Linked DNA regions of Homo sapiens. The protein of the gene in region 1 interacts with the protein of each later gene in a biochemical or structural test. Each region holds a gene or a part of one and is shown in the gene's direction. Other genes may lie near its edges. The genes, in order: VCPIP1, SPRTN and WAC.

What was found.
Region 2: of the proteins of VCPIP1 (region 1) and SPRTN, one has a biochemical effect on the other in vitro, tested with the Homo sapiens proteins (one study listed by BioGRID).
Region 3: the proteins of VCPIP1 (region 1) and WAC form a complex in vitro, tested with the Homo sapiens proteins (2 studies listed by BioGRID).

Annotation. Positions count from the first base shown.
Region 1 is NC_000008.11:66,665,792-66,669,391, reverse strand, and holds the start of VCPIP1 (deubiquitinating protein VCPIP1), read left to right. Parts: upstream 1-2,160; 5' UTR 2,161-2,433; coding exon 2,434-3,600. UniProt on the Homo sapiens protein: Deubiquitinating enzyme involved in DNA repair and reassembly of the Golgi apparatus and the endoplasmic reticulum following mitosis. Necessary for VCP-mediated reassembly of Golgi stacks after mitosis.
Region 2 is NC_000001.11:231,341,101-231,344,930, forward strand, and holds part of SPRTN (DNA-dependent metalloprotease SPRTN), read left to right. Parts: intron 1-3,830. UniProt on the Homo sapiens protein: DNA-dependent metalloendopeptidase that mediates the proteolytic cleavage of covalent DNA-protein cross-links (DPCs) during DNA synthesis, thereby playing a key role in maintaining genomic integrity.
Region 3 is NC_000010.11:28,536,013-28,539,842, forward strand, and holds part of WAC (WW domain-containing adapter protein with coiled-coil), read left to right. Parts: intron 1-3,830.

The DNA of each region.
Region 1 (3,600 bases):
CAACAAGAGTGAAACTCTGTCTCAAAAAAAAAAAAAAAAAAAGAAAGAAAAATATCCCAAGATAGGAAAAATCACTTCTCTTGTAATTAAGGTCCATTATGGAGGATTTCTCTTTCAAATATTTATTTTCAAGAAAATTGTAGCAATTAGGTGCACATCAAAACTAATACCCTTTATGGGCCTCTATTTTGCAGATGGTTCATTTCAAAGCATCAAGTTCTACATACATACATACACACACACACACACACACACACACACACACACACACAACCTAATCAGGCGGTTTCCTGGGCAGCTACAGAAGACTCAAATGATCTCATGGACTTCACTAATGTTTCTAGTTGGTGCCAAATGTTTCAGAAATTTTGAGGTAGTCCACTTACCTAAGGTGATACTAAACTTCCAGAAAGCAAGAATTTCCGTAATAAGTGAAAGAGGATGAATGTACAAAAATAATACTAGCTTTCAATTAACATATGAATATTGTTCTGTATGAAGAGGCAGTTTCCTACCCAAGTGAAAAAAGAATAAAGCTGTTGCCTCCTTAACATTAAACATCCCTTCATCACTAAGAGGAGACTCTAAGGCCTAGCAAAAGATTTGAGCCTAACATTTTGGGTTTTTTTTTTTTTTTTGAGACGGAGTCTTGCTCTGTCGCCCAGGCTGGAGTGCAGTGGCGTGATCTCGGCTCACTGCAAGCTCCGCCTCCCGGGTTCACGCCATTCTCCTGCCTCGGCCTCCCAAGTAGCTGGGACTACAGGCGCCCGCCACTACGCCCGGCTAATTTTTTTGTATTTTTAGTAGAGACGGGGTTTCACCATGTTAGCCAGGATGGTCTCGATCTCCTGACTTCGTGATGCATCCGCCTCAGCGTCCCAAAGTGCTGGGACTACAGGCGTGAGCCACCGCGCCCGGCCGGGATTTTTTGGTAAGCAGCAGCGTAAAAATCACTCTCAAGGTTTGAGATTGGGATCCAGCATAACTGGTGACTTGACCTTGGGCAAGTCACTTAATTCCTTTTAGTCTCAGTTTCCCTGATTGTAAATGAAGTCAACACCACCTGGTAAAGGTATTACAGGACTGGTGTGAGGATGAGATGATACATGTGAACATATTATTAAATATGTAAACTATAAGGCAATAGTAAGCAAATGCTAGTTACTATTCTATGTAATACAGGCCTAACCTTTCCTGCCTATGTCCTGATCTGTAAAAAGAAGACAGGTTGAGATCTGAATGTCTATCCACTCACTTATCAGCTGCGTGAACTTTAGCAAGTCATTTCCTTTCTGGGCCTGTTTCCTAAGAAGGTTATTTTTTAAGATCAAATGATATCGTGTTATGCAAATGCTGTCCAGACACATATTAAGAACTTAACACATGATGGCTCTTATTATTCTCTGGGGAGTAGGGTGGTAAAGAGCAAATGAAATTAAACCTAGTTAAGAGAATTTGTATATGCACACAAAACTCTACAGACATCCAAGGTACCGTTATTTGCACTGTAAACTGCCAAAACATGCAGGAAACGAGAAATCAAATGGCGCCTCAGTGATTCGCACTAGAGAGGGGGAGAAGGCAGAGCTTCCGAGAATCAACTGTTTTCCCCCTTATGGCCTCCAGCCTAGATTAGACCATTTATTCAACTTCCCAGCCCCCAATATCCCTGGACATTTATTTACTGTACCTTTTTCACTGAGAGCCTTTCCACTCCCCTCCCCTTCTAGTAGTCGTGAACTTCAGACCCTCGCTTCGACTCCCACTGCCATAACTGTTTTTAACCAAGCTTCCCTGAATCCTCCCCTCCGCCTAAGGAGGAAGTGCAGCTAGACGCACCGCACGGCATCCTAGGAAATGTGGTCTCTCAGACTCTTTGCCTTGGGCTGCAGAGTGGGGAAGACGACGAAGGAGAGCCCAGTAAAACTACAACTACCGGCAGGCAACGCGAGTCACCATCTTTCTTTCGCCCCTTTTCCTGTTGCCGTCCTCTTCCTCCTCTCCTCTAGCGCTGAACCGCTTGGCCTCACGGTACTTGTAGTTCCTTCTGGACTCAAGATCCTAGGGCTTGATGGCCAGCACAGAGGCTGGAAGACTCTAATTCCCAGAGGGCAGAGCGGAAGCTGCGCCTGCGCACACTCAATGAGGGCGTGTATGTCTGTGTCTGAGGGAGAGAGAGCGAGAGTGAGTGAGTGTGAGTGCGGGGTGGGGTGGTGGCCGTTACGTTCGGGGCAACGGCTACGGCAGTGGAGAAGTAAGAAGAGAAACAACGTCCGGCGCTTCCGCCTTCGCTTAGGAGGAGGAAGAGCTGGTAGGGAAAGGAAAGTGCTTCGCCCTGGGCCTGGACTGGACCGAGTCGGGTTGGTGGGGGTCTGGGCTATGAGCTTTTGAGGGTCGCCTGGGACGCGGAGCGAGACACGAGAGCCAGGAGCTATGTCTCAGCCGCCGCCGCCGCCGCCTCCGTTGCCGCCGCCACCTCCTCCCCCTGAGGCTCCACAGACTCCGTCGTCCTTGGCGTCGGCGGCTGCTTCGGGGGGGCTTTTGAAGCGGAGAGACCGGAGAATCCTTTCCGGGAGCTGCCCGGATCCGAAGTGTCAGGCGCGTCTATTTTTCCCGGCCTCCGGTTCTGTCAGCATCGAGTGTACCGAGTGCGGCCAGCGGCACGAGCAGCAACAGCTGCTGGGGGTTGAGGAGGTGACCGACCCGGACGTAGTGCTACACAACCTGCTGCGGAACGCGCTGCTCGGGGTTACGGGGGCACCCAAGAAGAACACGGAACTGGTAAAGGTGATGGGCCTTTCCAACTATCACTGCAAATTGTTGTCGCCCATATTAGCTCGCTATGGAATGGACAAACAGACAGGCCGGGCCAAGCTTCTCCGGGACATGAACCAGGGCGAACTGTTCGATTGCGCCTTACTGGGTGACCGCGCCTTCCTCATAGAACCAGAGCATGTTAACACTGTGGGCTATGGCAAGGACCGCTCCGGAAGCCTCCTGTATTTGCATGACACTCTGGAGGACATTAAGCGGGCCAATAAAAGCCAGGAATGTCTCATTCCAGTGCATGTGGACGGGGATGGACACTGCTTGGTGCATGCTGTGTCTCGGGCTCTAGTAGGCCGAGAGCTCTTCTGGCATGCCTTAAGAGAGAATCTTAAACAGCACTTTCAGCAGCACCTGGCCCGATATCAAGCTCTGTTCCATGACTTCATTGATGCTGCTGAGTGGGAGGACATTATCAATGAGTGTGACCCTCTGTTTGTACCACCTGAGGGTGTTCCCTTGGGCCTGAGGAATATCCACATATTTGGTCTTGCCAATGTGCTACATCGTCCTATTATTCTGTTAGATTCCCTCAGTGGCATGAGAAGCTCTGGTGATTATTCAGCCACCTTTCTACCTGGGCTCATCCCTGCAGAGAAGTGCACTGGGAAAGATGGTCATTTGAACAAACCAATCTGTATTGCATGGAGCAGCTCCGGTAGAAACCATTATATCCCCTTGGTAGGCATAAAAGGGGCTGCTTTGCCCAAACTGCCTATGAATTTGCTTCCTAAAGCATGGGGTGTGCCTCAGGACCTTATTAAAAAGTACATA
Region 2 (3,830 bases), on another chromosome or scaffold:
AGAAAGGTAGGTGTAAACAAAATATCAGTTAAATGTAAGTGGACTAAACACTCCATTAAATACATGGAATGGCATGCTAGATTAAAAGAGACATGCTTACAGTAAAGACACACTTATTTTAAGTTTAAAAGGATGAGGAAAAGTAATCATCCAAACACTTAAAAGCAGAAAACTATTGTGGCTATAAGGTTGAGTACTCATTATCCAAAGTGGGACCAGAAGTGTTTCAGATTTTTTTTTTTTTTACTTTGGAATATTTGCATTATACTTACTGGTTGAGCTTCCCTAATCCAAAAGTCCCAAATCTGAAATGGCTTTAGTGAGCATTTCCTTAGAACTTAACCTTTAATCATCTTGTAAGTGCTCAAAAAGTTTTAGATTTTGGAGCATTTCAGATTTTGGATTGTCAAATTAGGGATGTTCAACCAGTATTAGTATCAGACTAAAGACTTCAAGGGAAGAAGTTTTACTAGAGGAAAAGTGGGATATTTTATAATAATAAAATAATCTATTAAGCAACAATACATAATCTCTCCAAAAGTAATAACATAACTTTAAATTTTATGAGGCATAAATTAGCAGAAGCAAAAAGAATATACAATCAGGCTGGGTGCGGTGGCTCACGCCCATAATCCCAGCACTTTGGGAAGCTGAGACAGGCGGATCACTTGAGGCCAGGAGTTTGAGACCAGCCTGACCAACATGGTGAAACCCCGTCTCTACTAAAAATACAAAAATTAGCTGCGTGTGGTGACACAGCCTGTAGTACCAGCTACTCAGGAGGCTGACGCACAAGAATCGCATGAACTCGGGAGGTGGAGGTTACAGTGAGCCGAGATCACACCACAGCACTACAGCCTGGGGTGACAGAGCAAGACCCTGTCTCACTACAGCCTCAACCTCCCAGGCCCAAGCAATCCTCCCGCCTCAGCCTCCCAAAGTGCTGGGATTACAGGTGTCAGCCAAGACACCCAGACTCATACTTGAAGAATGTTAACACAACCTTCTTAGTAACCCAATGAATAAGCGGAAAAAAATAATACACATTTTAAAAAGTTGAACAGCATGATTAACCAAATCAGCCTTAGAAGGAGCCCTAACTGGAAGAGTTGCTTAATGAATATGTATTGGGTAAATGATTACATAAACACATGAGAAAAAAATGTTTTTAAGTAGTGGGTGAGAAGAGAATGGGGAATGTATAATAGTATCAAGTGAGCATTTCCTGTTGGCAGAAAGTTACAAAATGACATTTTCGTCAATGACAGGCCCCATATATAACAGTGGTCCCATAAGATTATAAGACCATATTTTTATTTATTTATTTATTTTTATTTTTTGTTTTTTGAGATGGAGTTTTGCTCTTGTTGCCCAGGCTGGAGTGCAATGATATGATCTCGGCTCACTGCAGCCTCCGCCTCCCTGGTTCAAGGGATCCTCCTACCTCAGCCTCCCAAGTAGCTGCGATTAAAGGTGTGCGCCACCACGCCTGGCTGATTTTTGTATTTTTAGTAGAGGCGGGGTTTCACCATGTTGGCTGGTCTCAAACTCCTGACCCCAGGTGATCCTTCTGCCTCAGCCTCCCAAAGTGAATGGGATTACAGGTATGAGCCACCATGCCCGGCCAGGACTATATTTATTTATTTTTTTTTTGAGATGGAGTCTCGCTCTGTTGCCCAGGCTGGAGTACAGTGGCGCATCTCCACTCACTGCAAGCTCCGCCTCCCGGGTTCAGGCCATTCTCCTGCGTCAGCCTCCCACATAGCTGGGACTACAGGCACCCGCCACCATGCCAGGCCAATTTTTTGTATTTTTTTTACTAGAGACGGGGTTTCATCATGTTAGCCAGGATGGTCTCAATCTCCTGACCTCGTGATCCGCCCGACTCAGCCTCCCAAAGTGCTGGGATTACAGGCGTGAGCCACCACACCTGGCCAAGACTATATTTTTATTGTACCTTTTTTCTTCTTTATATTTAGTTGCACAAATACTTACCATTATGTTGCACTTGCCTACAGCATTCAGTACAGTAACATCCTGTGCAGGTTCGTTGCCTAGGAGCGGCAGGCTATACTCTATAGCCTAGGTATATATACTCTATAGCCTAGGTATATACACTCTATAGCCTAGGTATATATACTCTATAGCCTAGGTATATATACCCTATAGCCTAGGTATATATACTCTATAGCCTAGGTATATATACTCTATAGCCTAGGTGTGTGTATATATATATATATATTACATAGGCTATACCATTTAGGTTTGTGTAAGTACACTCTTAAGATGTTTGCACAATGACAAAATTGCCTAACAATGGATTTTTCAGAACATATCCCTGCCAAGTGAGGCACAACTGTAGTTACCTAAATCATAGAGAAGGGGGTTCAGAAAAGGAACAGACTTTATCTGGTTGAGGAGGTCAAGAAAAGCTTTATAACTGTACATTTTGTTACTACCATCACCACTCCTGCTGCTCACTATTGAGCACCTATTGTGTGTCAGACTTTGGACTAAACGTCGTCTTTACCACAGCCATGCAAAATGAGGATATCCCATTTTAGGGATGAGGAGCCACTTGGAGCCTGTCCCAGGTCTCATGCTGTGATTGTGGGTTTAGGTTCCAGTTTCCCTGACTCTAAGGCTCTTGTTCTGTCCCCTTTACCATTCAACTCATCACTCCTGCGATTAAAACATGGAGAGGTGAGCATTAAAGGACGAATTGTACTTTTGACAAGCAGAGATAGGACAGGAGGCTACTCTTGGCAGAAAGCATGGGAATAATGTGAACAAAAGTGAGTTCAGACAACTGGGGGCATATTTAGGACTAGAGGTAGTTCATTTTAACCCGATAGAACAGTCATGGAAAACAGAGGTATTTTGGGACTGTGTTGTGTATAGATCCTTGAATTAAGACTAAATATGGAAAATGATAGATATTTAAAAAGTTCAGTACCATTTTCAAGATGTTTTTTAATGTTTAATTAAATTGAACCAAAAATCAGGAACCTAAATTTGTTTCTCCTTTATGAGAATAGATCTTTATCATTGCTCTAATTTAGAACATTGAGAAACTTTTGCAGTACCTTTCTTGAATTTGAGTCTTCTTCGTTGAGCGGCATTTACTTGAAAAATAAAGTTCTGGCTGGGTACAGTGGCTCATGCACGTAATCAGATAGATGGATTGCTTGAGCCCAGGAGTTGACCTGTCTGGGTAAGATGGTGAGACCTTGTCTCTACAAAAAATTGAAAAAAAATTAGCCAGGTGTGGTGACATGCGCCTGTAATCCCAGCTGCTCAGGAGGATGAGATAGAGGGATCCCTTGATGCCAGGAATTTGAGGCTGCAGTGAAATATAATCATGCCACTGCACTCCAGTCTGGGTGAAAAAGTGAGACCCCATCTCTGAGAAATAATAAGATAAATAAATAAAGTTCCTTTTAAGAGATACAGTTGATAATTTTTAGAGGGATATATGAATGACCAAGTTAAAATGTTTGATTCTCTCATTTTTCTGTTCAGCATAATTTTATAAGACTAAAATTCATTAATGACAGTCTAGTTCTTCTGATGGAAATTGTTTTTTAAAAAAATTATGGAGGATCATGAAAAAGGTATGTCTTTGAAGATCTTTCTGATTTTTGCTTAAAAAAATTATTTATATTTTTTAGAGCAAAAACCCCAGCAATCTTAAATGCTTTTGTTAATTTTGCACAGAAACTTGTGCATCTTTGGTGTGGAATGAGCAGTAGGTTTTAGTGTTTGTTTCAAGTTTTCATGATTTCTGAATCAAAACCCAAAAGCTGTAGAAAGCTATACACAAAGATGTC
Region 3 (3,830 bases), on another chromosome or scaffold:
GGGCAGATCACCTGAGGTCAGGAGTTCAAGACCAGCCTGGCCAGCAGGTGAAAACCCATCTCTACTAAAAATACAAAAGTTAGTTGGGCATGGTGGTGGTGGCAGGCGCCTGTAGTGCCAGCTCTTCAGGAAGCTAAGGTAGGAGAATCACTTGAACCTGGTTGGTGGAGGTTGCAGTCAGCCTGAGATGGTGCCACTGCACTCCAGCCTGGGTGCTAGAGTGAGACTCCATTAAAAAAAAAAAAAAAGCGGACTTTAGTGTTTAATAATAAGGGAATGCATTTATGAATATAGTTTAAAACATGCTTTCTTAAGGATGGGAAAAATGCAGGACTTTTTTCCAAGAAAGGAACTTTGACCTTTTAAAGATTTCAGTTTGAGATCCTTATTGTTGCTTCAGTTTGTTACTTTTTAAGGTGTTCAAATCTGTTTTCTAATTACAATGATAAACTATGAATTTAAAAACTCATTATGTTTTTTCAGGATAGTTCCCAGATTTAAAAAATTATTTATGACTTAGAAAATACATTCTTGCTTTTTGTTGTAAACATTTTCAGTATTCTCCAGTTTTGGTGATGTGATTTTTATACCTGGTTCATTGAAATATTCTTTTTAAAAGTTAGTCTGATTTCTTTTGCACAGTCCTGTACCTTCAATTATAAGTTTGCCTCAAGCTCTTTGTGGTAGGAGTCTGAGAATAAGTAAACAAAACCAATTCTCAGTAACTATTTTCAGACTTAATTTGCCCGAATTACATTTCATGTCAAAAGCATGCATTAAGGAACAAAGCAATTTCAGTAAAGACACCTATATTCTCTCCTACATGTTGCTTAAGTAGATAACATATCTTAAGCAGATTTACAATATTAAAAGCTTCCAAGGAAACTCAGTAAAGTACCATGTGACTTTTTGCCCCTATTGGCAGCTAGTTCTTCAATACTTGGCTTACTTTAAAAAAAATACCTTGCATCTTGCCCCTTTTGTCCACCTAGGATAGAAATCAGCTTTATTCAGTGTGATCATATACTGAGAAACATTGGCTTCCTCTACATAATTACTGGTTTGAGAAAATACAGTCAGAAGATTGCACTGGGATTGAATAATTTGGATGAGAAGAAAGTAGTTCTCTATTGAATGTAGTTATAGCTTAGTGCTATTTATGCAGATAAACCACATTTTTGTAACAGTAGTAGCAGGTGTATTTGATTATTAAAGTGTTACAAGTTATTGGGTTGCAAAATTAAGCTTTTAGAGTTATCAGTTTTGTGGGTAAGTTTTCCATAGTATTATGTAAAGCCTGAGATGGTACTCTCTATCAACCACTCTTCTATAGTGGATTTCATTTCTAATGTTAGCTCTTGGAGAGCAGGTACTGGTTGTACTATACTGTATTTATTTTGAAAAATTTGGTGATTGTAACAAAATAGGATATGGCACCTCATCTTCTTACAAATAGGCTCTTATTTTAGTGACTATGATCCAGTTTATCCCCAAATGCAAGAAGTCAGTTTTTCAGTTATAAATGCTTTCAATCATTTCCAGCAAACCTTGCTCAGCCAATTCTTTTACAGGTGAAGTAATCCCAAGAACATTCTGTTGCTTATTCATTCAACAAACCTGGGGCATCTACTGTGTGCCAACATTTGTGTGATACTCCTGGGAGTCAAGATGTGATCCTGGCCTTGAAGCTATTCTTAAATGCTTTGACTCTTGAGAGCTAGTGGTGTTTTAGCCACTTACTTTTTCTGTACCCATTTTTTCTTCACTTTGATTTTTTCATTTTTCTACCTGTATGAACTCCAGGTACTTGTTAGCTTTTCGTTTTTAAAAATTTGCATCTTTCCTGATGTTTCTTTAGCTTCATTTGCAAGAAACTTGATGTTTTTCTGATCTAATCACTTGCTAAGTTAGGCCCCACTTTCCAATTTTCTTTCTAGCTGATTGTCGTCTTCTGGAGTCTTCCAGCTAATACTGTGATTCCATTCCTGTCTCTACCATCTCTAACATACCTGGCTGCCATATTCCTTTATATTATATGGAAATAATAATATGAGGTATATCTCCATTCTGGAATTGAGAGTACATCTTTGATATTCTCTCTTCAAAAAACGTAAAATGGTGATTTTTCCTCATTTTATAGTGAGATATTTAGTCATTATAATTTGTTTTCTGGTGTTTATTTTTTATTGCTAATGATGTGTTTGGCACTAAGATGTTAAAAGTGTATATGTATGATTTTTATTGCAGGCATTATAAACTCCTTTGGATTTTTATCCAAAAATGAATTCAGGCCGGGTCAGTGGCTCACGCCGGAATCTCAGCACTTTGGGAGGCCGAGGCAGGCAGATCACCTGAGGTCAGGAGTTTGAGACCAGCCTGGCCAACGTGGTGAAACCCTGTCTCTACTACAAATACAAAAGTTAGCTGGTTGCGGTGGCGAGTGCCTGTAATCCCAACTACTAGGGAGGCTGAGGCAGGAAAATCACTTGAACCCAGGAGGTGGAGGTTGCAGTGAGCTGAGATTGTGCCATTGCACTCCAGCCTGGGAGACGGATTGAGACCCTGTCTCAAAAAAAAAAAAAAAAAAAAGAATTCAGCCAGGCACAGCTGCTCATCTCTGTAATGCTGGTTGCTTGGGAGGTTGAGATGGGAAGGTCCTTTGAAGCCAGGAGTTTGAGACTAGCCTTGGCAACATAGCAAGACCCTGTGTCTACTAAAAAAAAAAAAAATTTTTTTTTTGATTAGCTGGGTGTGGTGGGATGATTGCTTGAGCCCAGGAGTTTGAGGTTAACAGTGAGCTGTGGTTGTGCCACCACACTCTAACCTGGGTTGATAGAGTGAGACCCGTCTGTTTAAAAAAAAAAAAAAAAAAGAAAAAAATTAATGTATATAAATTCAAGACCATTATCAAAAATCAAATGCAAGTGAGTTGGATTATCTAAGCTCTAAGCATGTAAAAAACTTAAGATTACAGCAGGTTACTTACTATATGCATTGAACTACTGAATTCAAATTTCCCAGTTTTTCATTTTAAGATTTAATGATTTTCTTTACTAATAATAACCTATATGCTATGATTTGTAACTTGCATTTTACAAAGCAAGTTAAATGTGGAACTTGTGCGTTTGTTTACCTTAGGATTAGGCTTTACTGGCATCACAGCATTTTTCAGTAATTACTAGATTTCTTAGCATCTTGGATTTCATTGAAAAATGCTCGTTCAGAAGTAATGTATGAAAGGACTTGCAGATACAATATAAAAAGTGAGAAATCAGGGATTGTGAAGGTTTTTATTCCCAAAAACCTTGCTAGTTAAAATAAGACTTGCTGTAACATAGCGTGTATAGTTTAGAGTTAGAGATTTTATCCATTAGGATTTATTAAAGGAAATAATGTCTATTGTAAATTTAAGATAGGTTATGTGAGAGTATAATTAAAATATTTTTTTGTGAAATGAGTTATTTTTATATAGTCTGTGATCTGTCTGAAAACATACAATCTTGTTTAAAGTAACCAAAAGCAAAAACCTTAAGGTACAATCGTTAGGGTTTGTTTTTTGGTTTTTTTTTTTCTGGAGACAGAGTTGCCCAGGCTGGAGTGCAGTGGTGTGATCCTGGCTCGCTGTAACCTCTGCCTCCTGAGTTCAAGCGATCCTTCTGCCTTAATGTCCCAAGTAGCTGGGATTACAAACATACGCCATCATGCCCGGCTAATTTTTGTATTTTTAGTAGAAATAGGGTTTCACCAAGTTGGCCAGGCTGGTCTCAATCTCCTGCTCTCAAGTGATCCACCTGCCTCGGCCTCCCAAAGTGCTAGGATTACAGGCGTGA